Homo sapiens: one gene and its partners. The protein of the gene in region 2 purifies or fractionates together with the protein of the main gene of each other region. This does not show direct contact. Each region holds a gene or a part of one and is shown on either strand. Other genes may lie near its edges.

Region 1 (7,028 bases), on a different chromosome or scaffold from region 2:
AAAGATAAAAATAAATAAAAATAAAAATAAAAATAAACCAAATGAATGAAGTTTCCCTCCAAGTTTGTCATCTTCATCTTAGGAAATAGCTTAAAGTTTAATAAAGTTTACACATGCCAATTTTGTGAATATCAAATTCAACAGTTTGGAAACACAAGCTTCTAAATAAACTGTTTCACTGTGACAGTGTCCTTGAGAATACATGCCATCCAGAGGTAATTCTGCTTTATACTCAGATTCTTTCCATACTTCCAAAAAAGGATCAATATTAGACCTGTATAACAAATTACACTCTTTTACAGAAAATAATAAAATATCCAAGTCTCTCACCAAATTTTCAAAAAAGAGGAAAAGTGTAAGCTTCCAGATGAAAGTTTCTATAGCTTTCCCCAAATTTAGTACCACCATGAAAAAGAAATTCTTCACTCATTCAAGGCATACGACTAGAAAACTAATTTCCATGGCATCAAATTAATTTCCTCCTTTGGAGATAAAACCATGAGATCTTTTCCAAAGCATTAAAATCGCCAAGAAAAAAAAAAAAAAGAAAAAAAAGACCATTACCAGCATTTTAAAACTGAGTAAGAGAATGAAGTAAACAAAAAAGGGAAAGAAAAAGCTTCAAAAGTTCATTTTTCTCCTAATTTCTTGAACTCTCTATTCCAGAAGTACCTAATGTTTTTCTTAAAAGAGAGGCTTTCAATTTTTCCCTATGTCTAAAGGCTGCTTTAAGTAGCTTAAGACCAAGGACAGGAGAGTGAAAACGAAGAGGGTTTTGGCTCTCCTCGGTGGGGGTGGAATTGCAGCTACTGCTTAGGGATATTTTCCAGTGGTCAGCTCTTCAAACTCCAGTGAGTCTCATAAACAGGGTGCACCAGCCAATCCAAGTATCCAGTATCTACAATGCAAACTGTAGATACTATCCAAATTGACAGTAGATAGCTCAGTAAATAGCTGAGCAAACTGCAATGATAGCTCAGTCTTGAACTCTGGAAATAAATTTCCAAAAGCCTTCCCCAGTGGCACTTCAAACTCAAAAACGTTTACAAAACCAATCACATTTTCCAAACCTGCTTCCACCACTACCCGACCTGTTGCTCCTCCTTCCTGTATTTCCTATACCTCGGAGATTAGTCTCACATTGAATCTACCTCCCAAGAGTCATGTTGCTTTTAAAATCCTTCACTAACTCCTTGCTCCCTACAGAAGAAAATCCAAACTATGTATCATGGCATTCAAGACCCTTTGTGGTAAGTTCTCTATCTCTTCAGTCATACCACTTTTTCTGTGCTACATAATACCAAGTTTTCTAGCCATTCTAAAATATTCAAAGGTCCCTGGAATACAAAATCTTCCTTATACCTGGAAAGTTATCCCTACCCTACTCCATCTGTAAAAACCTTATTCATTCTTTAAGACTCAGGTCAATGACTGCCTTCTCGGTCAATATTTTCCTGACTCTTTTTCAAGAAAAGTTGAGCAATCATTCCCTCTATTTTCCTATTATTATAGAACTCTGTGCTTTTAAAATTCTTGTATTAATATTAATATCTATTATGTTGCCTTTTTGTTTGTTTGCTTCTGTTTCCCCCCAATGACTGATCTCCTTAAAGGCAGAGTTTTTGCCTTATCCATTGCTTATATAGTCCTTAAAATGCTATGAAATGCATAGCAGGCAGTTTGTCAAATTAATTTAACTTATTATTGACCAGCTGTGTTTTGGTTTTCCTCTGTTCAGTCCACTTACATTTCTAAAAATTAAGAAAAAGTCTAGAGAAGATTAAAATGACACATCTTCTAACCTGTTACTCCTACTTCTGAAATCTATGTGGTTCACTAGTACTTCCATTTGCTACTAAATCAACTTAAGTCTTACCACTAAGACGATGCTACACACTATTCCTTTTCCTTACTCTTAACTACTCAAGGTGAGCCTTTTTCTACACATGCTTATAGCAGTTTATTGTCAGTACTTGTCAGCTACAAAATGGTAAAAAAATTTTAAAAAACAAAAAATAAAACAAAACTTCTATAAGAGTGACTTTGACTATTTTGTTAACCATATCTCCGGGTTTTTTGTTTGTTTGTTTTTTTTTTTTTGAGACAGAGTCTCGCTCTGTCACCCAGGCTGGAGTGCAGTGGTGCGATCTCAGCTCACTGCAAGCTCCGCCTCCCGGGTTCACGCCATTCTCCTGCCTCAGTCTCCTGAGTAGCTGGGACTACAGGCGCCCACCACCAGCCTCAGCTAATTTTTTGTATTTTTAGTAGAGATGGGGTTTCACAGTGTTAGCCAGGATGGTCTCCATCTCCTGACCTCGTGATCCGCCCACCTTGGCCTCCCAAAGTGCTGGGATTACAGGCGTGAGCCACCGTGCCCAGCCCAAATCTCCAGTTTCTAAACTGGTAAGCTCAAGTTGCTATGCCTCAAGGAATTTGAGAGAATATTTAATATAAGATTCAGGACCCAATAGTAAGAATTCTACTCAGGACATCTGATCTTCATTGAAAAGGATTCTAATCCAACTTCAGTCCTCATAGCAAGGAAGTACTATTTCAGAAAGTCCCTAGATTCTCAGATGCATTGGCAAGCACCATACACTGAAGAATTCACAGAAGATTTTAGTCACTTGCTCACTCATCCACTTGAAGTAAGAAAAATCAATCACTGCATGTTTATTGTTCTATAATAAAGCAAATGTTAGAAATAAAAGTTAGAAATGTCAAACACACTAAATTGTTACATAATAAACTAATCAAGACACAACTTTTATTCAGGACATGGATATTTCTGAAATGAAAATAAAAGAAGAGAATTGACTTAAAATGTTTATAAATACGAATATTATGACAGAACCAAAGCTATTTATGAGCATTATTTTTAAAAGCTTGTTTAAGTATCATGCACTTGTCTGTGTGACATTTTGTAAAGCGGAGAAAAATTAAGGAGAAAGGAATTGTAGAACACTAACAGGAAGAGGACAGATACTGAGGAATGGCTCATGGTATAAGTGAGATTATCAGAGACTCTCTACAATGGAATTTGAAACGCAGGGAGCACATTTGGTGTATGGTTGTAGAGGACTTACACTAAGGGCATTCTTCTGCTACCTCTGCCAGCAGATGAGTGGCTCCTGAGAATGCATACCAAATTAATTCCCCAGCTGTTCACATGCATATAAGCAGCTGCTGCTGTTACTGCCTAATACTTATGGCAGTCTGTCAGCACCTCTAATCTCTGCCATAGCAGACAAGCCACTCACCTAAGGCCTCTGCTGTACTTCCAAAGAAAGAATTTCTCAAGTAGAGACTGAGTGGAACTAGACTGCCAGCTGTGAGCCTCAGAGCTCCTGGCTGCCTGTTGCTGAGTCTATCAGCTGCTGAGCCTTTCTCACCAAAAAAAAAAAAAAAAAAAAAAAAAAAAAAAAAAAAAAAATGAGCTTAATAAAATAACCCTGCACAGAAATTTTCTGAAATTAAGATAACATTCAATGGAAAACAGAATTTAATCTACAGAAATACACTTCACAGATGTTTTAGGAACAGAACCTAGAGAAAATGAAAGTCAAAATTTAATAAAAGAATTTGTCAGGAACTTCAAGGTAAAGACTCCATGTATTTTTTGGCAACTATAAAACACTAAGAAGGCTTTTTAAATATTAAAAAGCCATTTAAACACTTCAAATTAAGATTCCTCAATATACTTCAGATTTCTGTACTGAGTTACCCTCTCGAGTGTTTGGAAGTCTTTTCTTCCTCATTAAGCAAACACTTACACAGTGTTATCATGGCTTTGTAATCTTAGTTTTGAAGACAGGCAAATGTACTAGTCAAATATGCCAAACTAACTTATTAAGAGCATTCCAAACAACATTTTGGATCCAAATCTTTTTAAATGCACTTAGATCTTTCTTATATCAGAATCAAGCATATTTGTCAATTACTTAATGTTTATTATTAATAACTAAAATGATTTGTTATTAATAGGAATAGCTTTTTTAAAGTACCTTGATCTTTGTGTTTCTAAGATTTGTCCTAGTCCATTTATGGATCTGAAATAAATAATAAATGAGGAAGACAAAGTTTAAAAGTAAAAATTAACTTTTTAAAAAAGTATACAAAGTATATTGTTTCTAAAACGGGAAATAAGCATACCCAAATACATCTGGAACCAGAAAAAAATTAAAAACAGAAAAACAAAACTTGCTTTAAAAAATAATTATGATTTTCCTTCAAACAATAAATCACATATATTCCACTCATACATCAATAAAACATATATGCAAAAATTCACACAACTGTCAGATTAAGGGCTACTTTGTGGTTAATAAAAAGACGCTTCACTTTAGAAAAAATCATTCATAAATAGTCAGTTATCCCAGTGTTCTTAAAAATGAGTAGATACTCAAAATTTTTACGGTGGTCACTTTTTTCCTCAGGCATACATGGTAGAAATGGCTATATACACACTAAAAATAAAAACCTAGTTGTAAGTTGCTTTGCCCCCAGCCTGTCCTTAGTATTCACAGTAATTCTAAGTCACACATCCCAGGTTCCTTTATAGAATAACCTCGTCAGTTCCCTAATTAGGCTCTCTACCCGTTATGCCTGTTCTCCCTCTTTTGATACTATAGAATATGGCTTTGTATGGAACCAAAAAGTACCTGTTAAATTCTTTTCAACACACTGTACACCTCATCTATTTATCTTTTCCATTGCCTATCATCAATCATCAATTCTCTATCATGAATTCAATTGTCTTTAGGGTTACTTACCCAAGATTCTTGCTACTTGTTCAAGTTTGTTCTCATGGGTAAGGCTTCCCACATATAATGATTCTGAGGCAAGTCTCTCCACTATTTTACAAAATTCTTAAATCTTCTTTTTTGAATACACTCTAGTCTGATGGCTAATTCCTCTCAAACATGTTTACCTTTTTTCACCTCCCCAAATATCATTCTGAGTCAGTCACAAGTCTGATATAAACGGAGGGTAAAAGCCAAAAGGGTGTGTAATTTACCAAATTGCTTCTACCAAATTCATTTCTAGTACTGTTAACAAGCTGGCTAATAGTCAATATTGTCAGTGTCAGAGATTTAGCTTAGGTCTCTATAAGGATATAAAAGTCAAGTAATAATTATCATTCCTTTTATGCCAAAAACGTTTGCTAAATAGATTGTGTTCTTCTTAGCAATCACAATGGTGCACAAGATTTATGAAGAGAAACAAGATTAGAAGACCAGTGTCAAAAAATGTAAAAGCAATCTTCATTCATCACTTTCTCCTTTTCAAAATCAGCCATCTTTTTCTTTCTTCCCTTTTTTACTATACCTTGAACTTACTATGTAAGCTAAGAAAAAAATTACATAATAATAGCTAACAGAGCACTTACTATGTGTCAGCACTGTGCAAAGTTTACCAACATTGTCTCATGTAATACTCAAAGCAAACTTATGATAGGCATTATGCCTTTTACAGAGGAGGCTTTAAAAGGGTAAATAAGCTCCCTAAGAAGACAATGAGAAACAGACCAAGGATTAGAACCCAAGCAGATTCCAAGGTCTGTGATCTTCAACACTAGGCAACAATACCTACCCTCCACATGGAGACATTATATTTTTTTATAGTAAAGTTTAAGGACATTACTATTAAAATAAGATGAAATATGTGGAAAAAATATGAATTTCTTTCTTCCACAATCATTAATCATGGCAAATAATCTCCTAATGAGCCTTACCTTTATTGATTCAATTTATAATATATACTATATGAACTGAGATGACAGATTGAAAATCTAGTCAGTAGAACTTATAAATACTAAGAATAGTAATTTTGAGCCATCACGCTCAAAGCATTGTACACATTAAAGATAACCAATAATAATAGCTACCGAATGTCTCTCTGTATAGGGCTTTTATTAGTTCAGGTCTTACAAAATAATTCAAAACAAAGTCCCTGAACTATAACTTCATTTGAAAAGTCCATCTTTGTTTTCAAAAGGAATGGGAGTCTCCAGAACAGTCAGCAAAATGACTGTTAGCACATATTTGAGCATCATTCATATTGTCCTGATTGTCCTATGCTGATCAGCCTTGGCTATGGACAAAGAAGATATACAAGCAAGCTGGAAGACAATGCATGGTTGACAGTTAAGGAAGATGAAGTCAACAAGAGTTCAGGGAAAACTGAGACCACTTGAGTCAGGGAAGACTTCACATAGGAAGCGGGGAGAGACAGAATAGGCTCTATAGAATAAATTAAAAAAAAAAAAACAGAACAAGAAAGAACTCAGGGATTGGCAGAGTGAGAATACATTATGAGTAAAGACAGGAACTGACAGGATGCATCCATGGGAAAGTGAATTAACCATCCTGGGTAAAGTTAGGGAAGACTGACATTAGGAAAGAGTCAAAGAGAAGACAGGAAAAGAAAGATGGAGTGCGAAGACCCTGAATATCAGTCTATTAACTGTGAACTATATTCTGCAAGCACTGGGGACTAATTTTATGTATTACCATTTATATAACAATTAGCCATCAACAATATATGTGATTCCCTAACGTTCTTGAAGCAGGTCAACCTTATACCTTAAGTTTCTACAGGGCAACAATCAGAGTAAAAAATATTCTGTGTATACAATATGGATCTGTAGGCACTTAACACACTTATCATTTTGTACCTAATTGTCGTTCTTAATTTCTTTACATCTTCTTCTGGAACCAAGTCTGTTTTATTAATGAGAATGATATCTGCCAAAGCAACTTGCCTAAAATAGCAAACAAAAAGAAATGTTAAGAAATTTTAAATAATATACACGCATGCAGATTAATACATCAAAAGAGAAATGTTAACAAATTAAAAATAAATAAAAACACCTCATGTAGATCAATATATCAGTTAAGGATTATATAGTGCTCTATAGGAGTGATTCAGTTTACTCCTAATCCGCTAATTTTTCAATGTGAATGAATTGTATTCATTACTATGCAAGTTCAGATTTCACATTACCCATTTGCAAAGTATTTACTAAG
Region 2 (6,926 bases):
TTTGAGAAAATTGAAGCAAGTAGAAAAGAATTTTTATTGCAACCCACTTCTTTCCAGCATCTGCCAATATACTGTGCCTTTCCTCCTGTTCATATTAGATGAACCTCTCCTGCTCTTATCTAAGGCCACCTCATCTGCTTGTATGCTATGTCTCATCCCCTTTTGCCTACTCAAGAAGATTGACCCAATCATTCTACCCTCTCTTTGCTATATTATTAGTTTTTTCCTCTATCTACTAGATCATATCCAACATGCTGGTTTTTTTCTGTCTTTAAAAATATTTCTGACCAAGCACAGTGGCTCATGCCTATAATCTCAGCACTTTGGAAGGCCAAGGCAGGCGGATCATTTGAGGCCAAGAATTCAAGACCAGCCTGGCCAACATGGTGAAACCCCGTCTCTAGTAAAAATACAAAAATTAGCCAGGCTTGGTAGTGGGCAGCTACTCTGGAATCTGAGGCAGGAGAATCGCTTGAACTGGGGAGGCAGAGGCTGCAGTGAGCCGAGATAGGGAGGCGGAGGCTGCAGTGAGCTGAGATCGTGCCACTGCACTCCAGCCTGTGTGACAGAGCGAGACTCCATCTCAAAAAAAAAAAAAAAATTCTTGGACTCTCTTCTTTACCTTTTCCCTGGTCCCACCATCAAGCTATACTGCCTCATTCCTTTTATGTCCTTTATAGAAAAACTCCTTGAAAGAGTTGAAGATATTAACCATCTCCAATGTCTCCAATTCCTCTTTTCATTCTTTCTTAGGCCATTCTAACCAGGCTTTCATCTCCACTCTTCTATCAGACCTGCTCTTAAACAAAACTTTCAATATCCTCCACATTGCTAAATCCAATGGTCAGTTCTCAGTCCTCATCTTACTTGACCTATCAGAAGCTTTTAACACATTTGATCTTTCCTTTCTTTTGTAAGTATTTTCTTCACTTGAGTTCCAGGATACTTTTTCCACACACGGTCTTCTCCATGTCAATCAATGACAACTCCATCCTTCCAGCTATTCAAGCTAAAAATCTTGGAACTATTCTTTACTCCCCTCTTTTTCTTGCAGCCCACATCTAGTTTGTCAGTACATCCTATTGCCTCAATCTTCAAATTATATCCTGCATTTAAGTCTAAACATTTTTTTTTGTTTTTGTTTTTGTTTTTGAGACAGGGTCTTACTCTGTTGACCAGGCTGGGGTGCAGTGGCACCATCATAGCTCACTGTAATCTGCAACTCCTGGGCTCAAGAGATCTTCCTGTCTTAGCCTCCCAAGTAGCTAGGACTACCGACATGTGCCACTGCACCTGGCTAATTTTTAAAATTTTTTTGTAGAGACAAGGTCTCCCTGTGTTGCCCAGGCTAGGACTCCTGGCTTCAAGCCATCCTCCTGCCCTGGCTTCCAAATCTCTGAGATTACAAACACTTTAACTGTATAATAAATTGATATCTTTATAGATCATTTCCATTTACTTTTTTGTGAGTTATTACATTTTTGAAAATACAGTAGACTTTTAGAACCCACAAATGCTTTTCCTTATCGTATCAGGAAATACTGTGTCTAATCTACAAAAGTCGGATTTTTAACAGGCTCAAATAAAAATGGCCTGTTTCTAACAACCAAAGAAACAACAAAGCAACAACATAAACATACACTCAGACATCCACTTCATACCACCTCAGCAACAGCAACAACACACATACACACACATCTACTTCTCATTACGTTTAATGCTGCCTTCCTGATTCAAGCCACCATAATCTCTGCTTGCATTATTATAATAACCTGTCATTTAGTCTTCTTACATTCACCCTACAGACCATTCTCAGCATAACAGCCAGAGTGATCCTCTTAAAAAATAAATCAGATCATGTTATACCTCTTTTTAAAACCTGTGATTTGCTCCTTTTCTCTTAGAGTGAAAGCCAGTGTTCTTACAGTGGCCTGCAGAGATTGACATGGTCTTCCCACCACCCCCTTACATCTCTGACCTTATCTTGTACTACTCTAATGTTCCAACCATATTGGCCTGCTTACTATTCCTCAAACAAAAGTAGGCATATTCTTGTCTCAGGGCTTTAGTACGTGCTGTTCACTGTGTTTGACTGCCACAGTCTTCATGGCTGATCTCTTTCAAGTCTTTGCTCAAATACCACCTTTCAGTGAGTCTTCCCTAACAATCCAATTTAAATTGCAAACACTCCATGCGCTCCTAGTCTCCTTTGTGCTACTTATAAACAAAAGCCAAAACCATAGCACTCACTACATTCTAACATACTTGCATAATTTACGTACTTATTTTAGTTATTTGACTGCCTTCCCTCACAAGAATATAAACTTCACAAAGGCAAGATATTTATCCATTTCGTTCACTGGTATATCTCTAGTACCTAAAACAGTTCCTAGCACATTTTAAGGACTCAAATATTTGTTCAATGAATGAATGAAAGAAATTTGGTTAAAAACTGGAACAAAACAGGAATGGAGGCCAGCGACAGGAGAACTTCTCTACCTCATTTCCTGTAGGCCTACATGCTTGGAACTTAAAAGCAGGTTGTTGTGAGCCTAAGGCCTGAAGACATGCAAACTTTCTTTTTTCTTTCTAACCAAACTCCTGCTTTTTAAAAAATCATATTATTTCTGGGAGTGAGTCTGTGCTGTGTATTTAATCTTGGATTGCCAAGCCAGTGAGGTGGGAAAAGGTTGGAACATATCTCTATTCTAAAGAGTAGAGTTGGATTTTGTAAATATAGGTGTATTTCATGATAATTTAAAATGTTTTCTTGAAGTAATATATGTGTGTACAAAAAAAACACATATCATAAGTATATAGCTCACTGAATTTTCACAAACTGAATTTGTCAATGTAATTGGCATCCATAGCAAAAAGCAGAACCCAGCTAACATCTCAGATGCTCCTCTGTGCCCTTTCCAGTTACTAGCTACTACCCAGGGTGACCACTATTCTGACTTCTCATGCCTTGGAAGTGTTTTGCCTAATTTTGTTCTTGATATAAATTAAATCATACAGTATAAACATGCTTGTATCTCTTTTTTTACTCAAAATTTTGTTTGTGAGATTTATCCACATTGTTATATATGGTCAGAGTTTGTTCGTTTTCATTGCTATATAAAATTTCACTTACAGTCTAACCATTCTACTGTTGATGGATATTTGGTTTCCAGTTTGGGGGTTATTATGAATAGTGCTACTATCAACATTCTATTAATGTATTTTGGTGTATGTATGCGTGAATTTCTTTGGACATTTTTGTGTTTTTTAAATCCACAGTCAGTGAACCCTAAGTGTTCCTCAGCATTGCAGTCAGTATATTTACCATGTATGCGTTACTCAAATGACAGCTGTAGTTGCAGGCATTACCAAATCCTTCCCTCCTTAATGTTATCACTGGACTTTGTCTATACTTGGGATTCTTAACATGTTGTATTTTGGTTAAGTATGCGTATTCATGTTTTTTATTAGATTTTGAGTGCTTTTTAGTACTTTGTTTTACTTGCTTATGTATCCCGACTCCTGACGAGGTACCTGAAATATAGTAAGCTAGTTGAGCGAATGGTGATAGCTGTCACCATTGCCAGTGATTAACAGAGCAAGTTTCCCTAGTTATGTGAATCACTTAGCCTAGAGTAAAATCCATGCTTTAGTTTGATATCTCAGTGTCAAAGGATTAGGAATGGGAAGTCATTTCTCTCTGAGAGAAGCCCAGAACTGTGGGCTCAGAACTGAATGTGCTGTGTGGCTAAAGGGAATTGCTATGGCTTTACAAGCCTCTTGGAGATTTAAAGTGTTAACAGCAGTGATTCCAAGGCATAGTGTGGGGGGGCCAGATATAAATAGCAGAACACAAGTAGCGTAGTGTGCCACTGCCAAGCTACTGCTGGGGGTGTTTATAAAAAGAAAAGCATTCCTGTCTCAGCTCTCACTGTCAACAACATCCCATCCTGAAGACTTGCTTACCACAACTGAGAGTGGGGAGTCAGTTTGAGGCCTAGCATCACTTAAACTTCCTCCAAAGGCACAAAAGCCAGGTAAACCTTTTGACTTATTTACACTCAGACTAAAGAAATGAACAATTTTTAGGAAAATCCTGATCAAAGCTTGCTTAAAACATATTGCCTTGTGACAGATATCTATCATCTTATATTCAAATCTTTTTTGGAAAGAGAAGTTTAACACAAAGTAGCATGTTGGTACTATATTTTAGTATTTTTAGTAAAAACAAAACAAAACTGCTTCTGAAGAAATATGGGAAACTGAGGCCAAAATGATCTATAAAAGGGAAGACTTCTCCCTTCCCCTGTGCTGTTCATTCTCATTTTTAGAATCCAGAATATGGTGATTGGTAGGGTAAAATAGAAGCTTCATTTGAGTTACATTATCATAAATACTGGGATGAATATTAGGCATTCGGCCAATAGTTGTATAATCTTAGAATTGCTGCCTACCCAGTTCCTTCTTATTCTTGTTCCCGCCTTCAGAAAGTTATGTAAGACACTTATTTTACCCTCGGGCTTCTCTTGATTGTATTTGGGGGAAGGGGGCCATCTCTGACAATCCACTGCTTTGTACCACTACTGACCTCATCATCTCCTCTGTCCCACTCAAAAGGGCATGACAATGTGCAAAGAGGATAGAAGAATGGATAATGTGCATGGACATATTCCTGGGGAATTCTTAGAAACTGGGAGCTAGGGGACCAATTTGAGACTGCTGTTTTTTAGTCTGATTGTGTTATTTCCTGTGCACGCTGAGGGGAGATTTAGAGATGGGAAGAAAATATGACTCCCAGTGACTGTGGTGGGAGAGATGACATGTCTGGAGGAGTATGGAAATGCACAGATTTAATCTTGAGCAAATCACTGAAATTCTAAGGTGTTTTTGTTTCCTCGTCTGTAGAATGAGAGCATTAGACCACTAGATAAAGCCTAATGGCTCTTGTAGCCCGTTAGGAATTTATTGATAATCACTTCCTGACCATCATGCTATCCACTCACATTCTAAATGAAAAAATACGCAGTGTCATCCTATTCTACTTCCCTACACCTCTTTTTTGAGTCTACTGAATTGAAATTTCTTTATTTTAATTTAGAAGAGAAAAATGAAGACGGGACATTTTGAAATAGTCACCATGCTGCTGGCAACCATGATTCTAGTGGACATTTTCCAGGTAATGTTGGGAATGGGAAGCATGTGGTCATTGGAATGGAAATTCGTTTTTTTTTTTTTTTGAGACGGAGTCTCTCTCTGTCGCCCAGACTGCTGGAGTGCAGTGGCTCGATTTCGGCTCACTGCAAGCTCCGCCTCCCAGGTTCATGCCATTTTCCTGCCTCAGCCTCCCCAGTAGCTAGGACTACAGGCGCCTGCCACCACGCCTGGCTAATTTTTTGTATTTTTGGTAGAGACGGGTTTTCACCATGTTAGCCAGGATGGTCTCGATCTCCTGACCTCATGATCCGCCCACCTCGACCTCCCAAAGTGCTGGGATTACAGGCGTGAGCCACCGCGCTTGGCCTGGAATGGAAATTCTTGATATAACATTACCTGAGGCATCTGTGTGGCTTGATGGTGGAAATGAAAGTAGGTAGGATAGGTAAATTAATTATAAGTAGCTCTTTTCATTTTAAATATGTGACAGATTAACTGTAAAAAGTTGAAAAAATTAAAATTAAGCAAAAAGAGGAAAGTAAAGATTATTCATAATTCCTCCACTCAGAGGGAATGATTCCCAACCTGTTGGTGTATACAGGCTTCTTGGCTTTTTTCTATGTGTATACTGTTTTTAATTTACAAAAATGGGTTCACACTGTACATAGAATTTTTTCTTTGCATTTTAAGTTAATACTATGCTGCATGTCACGCATGTCATCAGATATTCTGAATATATGTTTTTCTCCAAATAAGATAATGCTGCATTGTTTGATTACATGTTTTTTAATTAATGACCATTTTCCCACATTTTTTTTCTGGCAGAACTTTTATGATTTTATTTGCAATTGACTCTTTAAGCATCCTGTAACATATTTTTATGTAAAATATAATATTTCACTTGATTTTTTTTCCCCACGTTGTTAGCTGCCACATTACTTGTGGGTATTTGTGCACCATTTTAGATGCCTTTTTAAAAATATCTTAAATTCTTAAACTGTTATCCTTTTTTGAATTTAATATTCTAATCCATTTTCTATAGAATCATTGTGTATCCTGTTTCCTGTGTCGCAGTATGTTTTTTATTGAAATATAATTTACATACCATAAAAATTCACCATTTTTAGCTGTATACTTCAGTGGTTTCAGTATATTCATTATGTTCTGCAACCATCACCACTATCTGATTGCAAAACATTTCCGTCAACCCAAAAAGAAACCCTGTACTTATTAGCAGTCAGCCCCAATTTTCTCCATCCCCCATTCCCTGGCAACCACTGTCTACTTTCTGTGTCTATGGTTTTGCCTATTCTGGATATTTCGCCTAAATGGAATCATACAATATGTGACCTTTTGTGTCTGGCTTCTTTCACTTAGCATAATGTTCTCAGGAGTCCTATCAGTACTTCATTCTTTCTTATAGCCGAGTAATATTCTATTTTATGGCCGTACCGCATCTTGTTTATCCATTTATCAGCTGATGGACATTTGGGCTGTTTCCACTTTATGGCTATTACGAATAGTGGTGTTGTGAACATTTATGTACAAGTTTTTATGTGAACATGTGTTTTATTTTTCTTTTTAAAAAATTTTCTAATCATATAGTCTTGACATATTGAGATACTACAAACACTATTTGGTTATTTGGTAGCATTACAGAGTAAAGTTTACTTATATATAGGAAATATATATGTAAGAATGAATTTGGGGGTTATGATTTATGATTCATAGCAAAATTACCTATTGTTGTGAACATGTTTCACTTCTCTTGG
Region 3 (7,028 bases), on a different chromosome or scaffold from region 2:
CCAGGGTAGAGCCTGATGAAGAGCTTCCGCACCTCATCATACACCCAGATCAGGATGGCGTGCGGCACAGCCACAAACCAGTACTGAGCCCTGGAAGCAAAGGGATGGAAAGTGAACCCTGACTCATCCACAGGGATAGCCCAACCCTGCCCAATGGGAATGGGGCTTCTCGTTCATTTGTCTTGCTTTACTGCAAAGAACGACAAATCCACGAGGTCCCACAAAATAAAGGTGGAAAGCTCCTTGTTTAACCTGCACTGTGACTGCTAGAAGCAATGTCTGCCTTTGAAGCAACCTGTTGGATGAGGATGAAGGCCGGTTGGTGAGGTCTAGAAAACCCATTTCCACTTCTGGAAAATGCAGATCAAAGCTTTGGGCTCACAGAGCATGGGATCAGTTTGACGTCTTTTGAAAGACTTGGGGAAGAACCCTGGGAATCCTCAGGTTTATTTAGGCTGCGACAGCTCAAAGCAGAGGCTGGCTCTTTCCTCCATGCTGTTGAGGGTGAACTCACCTAAGCATGGTGAAACTCAAGGCTGTGACACTTCCGAGGCCATAGGAGAGGATCAGACCAATGATGATCTGTGAGGTGATCCCCACCCAGATGACTTTATTTCTGCAAGACACACAAAAGCAGACAGACTTGGGATTCTTGTGGCTTCATGATCATACACCCAGCAGACCATGCCACCAGAAAAATCAATGCCTCTGGGGTTACAAGTGTGGCCAGAACTCTGTCTTGTGAAAAACAAATCATCATCATCCTTGCACGGCAGGCCCAGGGCTGCCCCAGGAGGCCGGGCACAGGCAGTACCTGAAGAGACCCTGCTGGAAGATGGAATTCCTCCGGGTTTTCCTGATGATCAGATCTGCTATTTGCTGGACTAGGATGCCAACAAAGAAAGCCGTGTAGCCCGTCCATTCTAGGTATTCCCTCTGGTACCTTGTCTGTTAATGGGCAGAGAAGGAAGAGACCTTGAGGCCTAAAGGAAAACTTCTAGGAAATTCCAATGCAGTTCTCTAAAGCTTCATGTTCTTTCCACACCTCACCCGGACTGAGAATGGACCACCTTCTAGTGTTTGGAAAGAAACATTTTTCTTTCTTGAACCAGCTGAGTAGAGAAAAATGTTAATTTTTTAAAAAATTATCATTACTATTATTTCTAACACAGGCAGGGTCTCACTGTGTTGGCCAGGCTGGTCTCAAACTCCTGGGCTCAAGTGATTCTCCCTCCTCAGCCTCCCAAAGTGCTGGGATTATAGGCATTAGCCACTGCACCCGGCCTGAAAGATGTAAATTTATTTGGCCGCACTGTGGGTGTGGCTGGGCTGGTCACTCTTCTATACCAATGGCAAAGCTAAGGTAAAAAAAGGGACCTCTTGTCATCTAGCCCAAGACAGGAGGCTGTGCCATGAGACCTGGCAAAGGCCAAACACGTGTCAGCAAGGGGGCCCTGAGCCCTATTAATTGAAGCTTTCCCAGGCTGTTCAGGGACATGGAGGTTCTATGTAATTCTGCGCAGGGCAATGAGCATGGAGAGAATCAGGTGGACTCTGCAGCAGGGCTCCCGCCACTCACCCATTCCTGCCCATAGCTGTCTTTCAAGTCATTCACGTAGTCCTTCTCCCATTCTACCCGCAGGTTAATGAGAGTGCGGGGCAGAAAGCCCTCTTGTGCATAGACGGTGAAATACACAAGGAAAGCTCCCAGGGCTTGCATGAGGCCTGAAAGAACAAGAGAGATAGGACACAGGTTCTATGATGGCCTCAGGAAACTGCCTCATCCTGTCTACTCTCGGTTCCCCCTCCCTCCCCAACCCAGGCCCCACAGGAAAACCACACTTTCTGGCTGTGCCCCCCACTCCAGTGAATTCTCGGGGCAGGCCCTCGTGTGATGGGGAAGACGCGCCCTCATCGTACCAATGTGCAGGTATGAGTACACAGCGAGCGGCTGGTTCACCAGCCTGTCCTTATTCTTGTGGCGAGGCTTCCTGTTCATGATGTCACTTTCAGCTTTCTCGTACGCCAAGGCAATGGAGGGGATCTAGAGGGGAAGAGGCTGGTGAGGTCTAACCCCAGGATGTTCTGCTCTACCCACAGTAGGGGAGGGGGGCTGGGGTGGGTGGGGCACTGGCTGGATGGGGTGGGGGGCATGGAGCTGGCCCATCCAGGCTATAGGCAGTAGAGGGCGTGTTGTCTGTATGGAAATTTAAGAATAGTGCCTTTAGAAATCAGCTGCTTTTTATCACCCTGTGCTGGCAGTTCTGAAGGATGCTGGTTATAAAACACTCTTCCCCTACAGGGAGAATTTCTTGTGCCGTCCTCTCCCTCCAGGTGGGAGGACCTGCTAAGAGACAGATCATTGCGCCCCACCTCCAGACTTCCCAATTCAGGAGGACTGGGCTGGGGCCAGAGAATTTGCATTCATTTCTCTTTCTCTTTCCTTCTTTCTTTCTTTCTTTCTTTCTTTCTTTCTTTCTTTCTTTCTTTCTTTCTTTCTTTCTTTCCTTTCTTTCTTTCTCTTTCTCTCTCTTTCTCTTTCTCTCTTTCCCTCTCTCTCTTTCTCTCTTTCTTTCTCTCTTTCTCTTTCTTTCTTTCTCTTTTTTAAAAGACAATGGGTGTACAACCTATTTCCATTCCTAGCCCAGTTATCTGGAATAAGATTTTTATTTTATTTGTTCTTAATTTTTATTTTTTAAGAGACTAGGTCTCTCTGTGTTGACCAGGCTGGACTCAAACTCCTGAGCTGAAGTAATCCTCCTGCATTGGCCTCCTGAGTAGCTAGGCTACAGGTGTCCACCAGTGCCCAGAGTGTGCATGTCTAACAAGTTCCCAGGTGATGCCCGCACCAGGCCTGGAGAAGCACTGCAGCAGAGCAAAGCAGGCAAATGTGAAGGGCTTGGAAAATGATCCATCAACTTTGGGGACCTCAATACCCCTCAAAGGGAAAGACATCTCCAGTCTCTCTAGGAATTAGGGATTACCTGGGTGTTGTAGAAAACAAGAGAGGGGAAGGGGGCAATTTGAAGGGGAAGGGGGCACTTCGAAGGGCCAGTTTCCTGCTAAGAATTCAGCTTGCTGTCTGTTGCTTTCCCTGCTTGCCCACGTAAGCCACAGCCACATGGGCAGCTTAGACGGGGCTTTCTTTAAATGGATACTGGAAAAGGGGAAGGTTTAGGTGACATTACTGTAGGGCAAGGCTTTATAAAGTCTTCATAACTGCTACTTCTTACTGTGTTTAGGTAAAGGTCTTCCATGTCAGACTCTCTTACTTAACAAGAGGTGGCTGTGAGATTATCACTTTAGTCACTGGGCCCCCAGTGGTTATTTGGGTGATTAATCTGAGTGACAGCTTCATCTTCCCAAAAGAAAAGGGAAGCCCATAGGCTGAAACTGACCAATGGCATTTCTTTTTTTTTTTTGAGGATGAAGACTCATGTCTTGAAAAGCTTGCTATAGCTCAGGTGCAGTGACTCATGCCTGTAATCCCAGCACTTTGGGAGGCCGAGGCAGGTGGATCACTTGAGGCCAGGAAACCCCATCTCTACTAAAAATACAAAAATTAGCCAGGTGTGGTGGCACAAGCCTGTAGTCCCAACTACTTGGGAGGCTGAGGTGGAAGAATCACTTGAGCCTGGGAGGCGGAGGTTGCAGTGAGGCAAGATAGCACCACTGCACTCTAGCCTAGGTGATGGGAGTGAAACTCTGTCTCAAGAAAAAAAAGCTCACTATAGAGTGTTTTTAATTTCCAAACATTTGGCAGATGCCTCTGGTCCCTTGCTTTGAGGTGTGGCATGTGGACTGGTAGAATGGGCACCACCTGAGAACCTGTGAGAAATGCAGAGCTACAGGCCCCATCACATGGAAGCTGAGAAGCCTTGAGTTAGTCCATCCCCGGCCCTTGAAGGTAGCGACCCTGAACTTGACCTCCCCTGGGGCAGGCATCACAGCCTGTTCCCTTCAGTGTCACTTACAATGTCTGTCCCCAAGTCAATGAACAGAATGGTGATGGTGCCAATGGGCAGGGGGAGCCCGACAATGATGTAGATCAGAAAGGGGCACAGCTCGGCAATGTTCTTGGTCAGGGAATAAGCAATAGTCTTCTTGAGGTTGTCAAAGATCAGGCGACCTAGGCAGAGAGGTTTCTCCTTCAGAACTTACTTCTAGTCCCCCAGACCACCCTGGCCCTTGGGAAGACCCCCTGAGACTCACTCACCTTCCTCCACCCCTGTGACGATGGATGCGAAGTTGTCGTCCAGCAAGACCATGTCGGCTGCATTTTTGGCTGCATCAGAACCTGCTATCCCCATGGCAATCCCAATGTCTGCCTTCTTTAGAGCCGGAGAGTCATTAACTCCATCCCCGGTCACAGCAACAACAGCATCCTATGGCGGGGGACCCAGGGAGAAAGTGGGAGTGAGCAGGCCCAGTGGGTTGCAGGCCTGGCAAGAGCAACAAGACTTCCCTTTCTCTTGAGGTTGCGAGGATGATTATAGCTGAACGGAAAGGCCCATTTAGGGGAAAAGATAAAGATGAGAAATCTTAGAAGCAGGAACAAGGGTCTCCAAACAAGATACGTGCAAATGAGGAAAACCTAATGCGCAGGTGTCTTGTATCTTATGTCTTCACATTTTTTGTTTTAAATCTTTGCATTTTAAATCTCTCTTTACTCACAACTACCACAGTGGCAAATGCTTCACCGGGCTCTCATGACAAAATGCAGAGAGCTGGGGTGAGCCTTTCGGGGAACATGTGGTGGGGGTCTCAAAGGAGGACAGGGGCCAGCCCACCTGAGAGGTTGGAGAGGTCAGGTGATGGGGATGAGCCAAGAACTCTCTCTTGAAGTTTCAAAGGCACCACAGCCTGATGTGAGATCCAGACCTCTGCACTTGCCCATGGACAGTGATGGGCCTGTCAGTCCTCTGGACACTGCTGTCCACCCACCTGCCTCTGACAGCCCTCCACAATGATCAGCTTCTGCTGGGGGGATGTCCGGGCAAAGACAATCTCCTGGTAGTTGGCTAAGATCTCATCCAGCTGTTCTGAGCTCATGTCCTTCAGCTCCATGCCAGTCACCACAGCGGCCTTGGCATCCCTAGAAGGGCCAGAAGAAACTGGGTGAGGCCCAAGGGCAGATCTTAGGTTGAAACACTGTTCCAGGCAGGATGCTGGCTGAAGCCTCTCTGACTTGACCTGGAACCCAGTGTCCTTGATACCTAATGCTCTAGTGAGGTAACAGGAGTCCTGGGAACACTTTAGTCTCCATTTCAAGAGGGCAAACTGAGGCTAAAATATAACACCATTTCTTGGTACCATATAACAATAGGAATAAAAAACCAGGTAGCCTTATCCCTACTAGAACAGGTGAGAGTGGTACTTCCTAGAGCAACGCTTTACTTCAGAAGTAAAAGGAAGTTAAAAAACTGCCCATTCATGGCCAAACGCAGTGGCTCATGCCTGTAATCCCAGCACTGTGGGAGGCTGAGTAGGAGGATCACTTGAGGCCAAGAGTTCAAGACCAGCCTGGGCAACATAGTGAGAGCCCCTGTCTCTACAAAAAATTTTAAAAAATTAGCCAGGTATGGTGGCATGTGCCTGTGGTCCCAGCTACTCAGCAGGCTGAGGCAGGAGGATTGCTTGAGCCTGGGGGGTTGAGGCTGCAGTGAGCCATGATCATGCCACTACACTCAAGCCTGGGTGACAAAGTGAGACCCTGTCTCAAAAACAAAAATAAAAATAAAACCCCCAAACTGCCTGTTCATATGTTTTGGGTCCTAGAATTCTTTTATGGCCAAACAAGGGGTAATAATTACTTGCCGTTGGGTATTTCAGATTTACAGAGTGTCATCTTTGTGCAATGTGCTACGTAGGCAGAAGTTTACTGAAGTCTTTGAGCAGCGCTATTGCCTGCTGACTATAAAAGTAAGGTTCTAGGGCCTATTGATTATGCAGAGCTGCCTGAGCCAGTCCCCTGCTAAAACTCTTCAGGGGCTTTCCACCGTGCTTGGAGCAGACCCCGGAATCCCTAACTTTAGCCAGCGAGCCCAGGTGGGGCCTGCGTTGTCAAGCTTCGCCTCACCTTGGGCTCTCCCTCCTGCCCGCTGGATGCTCTCAGTTCTGACATCCTCCATCCCCTGTACCCTAAGGCCTTCACGGGTCTCGCTCCCTGACCAGGAATGGGCATCTCTCACCTCAGCTTCTCGTGGCTAACACTACATTTCAGCCTTCAAATCTCAGCTTAAACAATGTAGGTACAAACTGCTGCAGGTCTTTTTCTTTACAATTTGCAAGTTTTGAGCTTTCTAGGTCTGTTTTACCTCTTGGTGCTAAATACTGGAATTCTAGCACTTGACTCAAACTACAGGTCTCCTTAACCGCTGGCAAAAAAACAAAACAAAACAAAACAAAAGAAAGTAAGAGAAGAAAGAAGGGGTGTTTCCTTTCCCCTTACACCTGCTAAGATGCAATTTTTATATGGTCATGAAACTAGAGCTGATGAAGTGAATAACTGAAAACATTCACAAAAGCATCCACTTCACTCAGTGTGGTGATTTGTATACAAATGTGTAATCCACTCTTCCCTTTTGTGGCCATGAGCAGAGTGGCAGTGACCAAGAGGAAGTGCAGTCCCTTTGTGACTTTTGACTGAGGCAAGAATCATAAAAGTCATTTCAATGCACCTTCCCACATTCGTAGGAAGATTATGTCTTTCTCTCGTTCCAAAGAGCTGAGACAGAAGCACATTCTGGAGTCTGCTACAAGCACAGTTCCATCCATGCCCATCTGAAAGGATGAGGAAGTTGAGGTTGCACAAAGACACTATACGGGCCAGCAAATTGGCAAAGCAGTCCAGGTTTATAGGAAGAAATGTGCCACCTATACTGAACAGGAGCACAGGAGGAGGCTAAGGGCAGGACCGTCGTGTGCACGTCACCAGCACATGGCCATCACCAGGCTAAAACTAGACAAAGACCACAAAAGATCCTTGAATGGAAGGCCAAACAAATCTTCCTAAGTAGGGAAGGAAG

Evidence for each region. Proteins that work in one complex are often made in the same cells at the same time.
Region 1: the proteins of ART3 (region 2) and ZNG1C purify together in Homo sapiens (affinity purification with mass spectrometry; 3 studies listed by BioGRID and IntAct, with this or other methods). This does not show direct contact.
Region 3: the proteins of ART3 (region 2) and ATP12A purify together in Homo sapiens (affinity purification with mass spectrometry; 3 studies listed by BioGRID and IntAct, with this or other methods). This does not show direct contact.

What each region holds. Positions count from the first base shown.
Region 1 is NC_000009.12:68,265,955-68,272,982, reverse strand, and holds part of ZNG1C (zinc-regulated GTPase metalloprotein activator 1C), read right to left. Parts: intron 6,764-7,028; coding exon 6,677-6,763; intron 4,050-6,676; coding exon 4,005-4,049; intron 1-4,004.
Region 2 is NC_000004.12:76,070,783-76,077,708, forward strand, and holds the start of ART3 (ecto-ADP-ribosyltransferase 3 isoform a precursor), read left to right. Parts: upstream 1-3,926; 5' UTR 3,927-4,037; intron 4,038-5,098; 5' UTR 5,099-5,107; coding exon 5,108-5,176; intron 5,177-6,926.
Region 3 is NC_000013.11:24,704,380-24,711,407, reverse strand, and holds part of ATP12A (potassium-transporting ATPase alpha chain 2), read right to left. Parts: intron 5,096-7,028; coding exon 4,945-5,095; intron 4,386-4,944; coding exon 4,217-4,385; intron 4,130-4,216; coding exon 3,975-4,129; intron 2,045-3,974; coding exon 1,921-2,044; intron 1,726-1,920; coding exon 1,580-1,725; intron 949-1,579; coding exon 815-948; intron 617-814; coding exon 515-616; intron 91-514; coding exon 1-90. UniProt on the Homo sapiens protein: The catalytic subunit of a H(+)/K(+) ATPase and/or Na(+)/K(+) ATPase pump which transports K(+) ions in exchange for Na(+) and/or H(+) ions across the apical membrane of epithelial cells.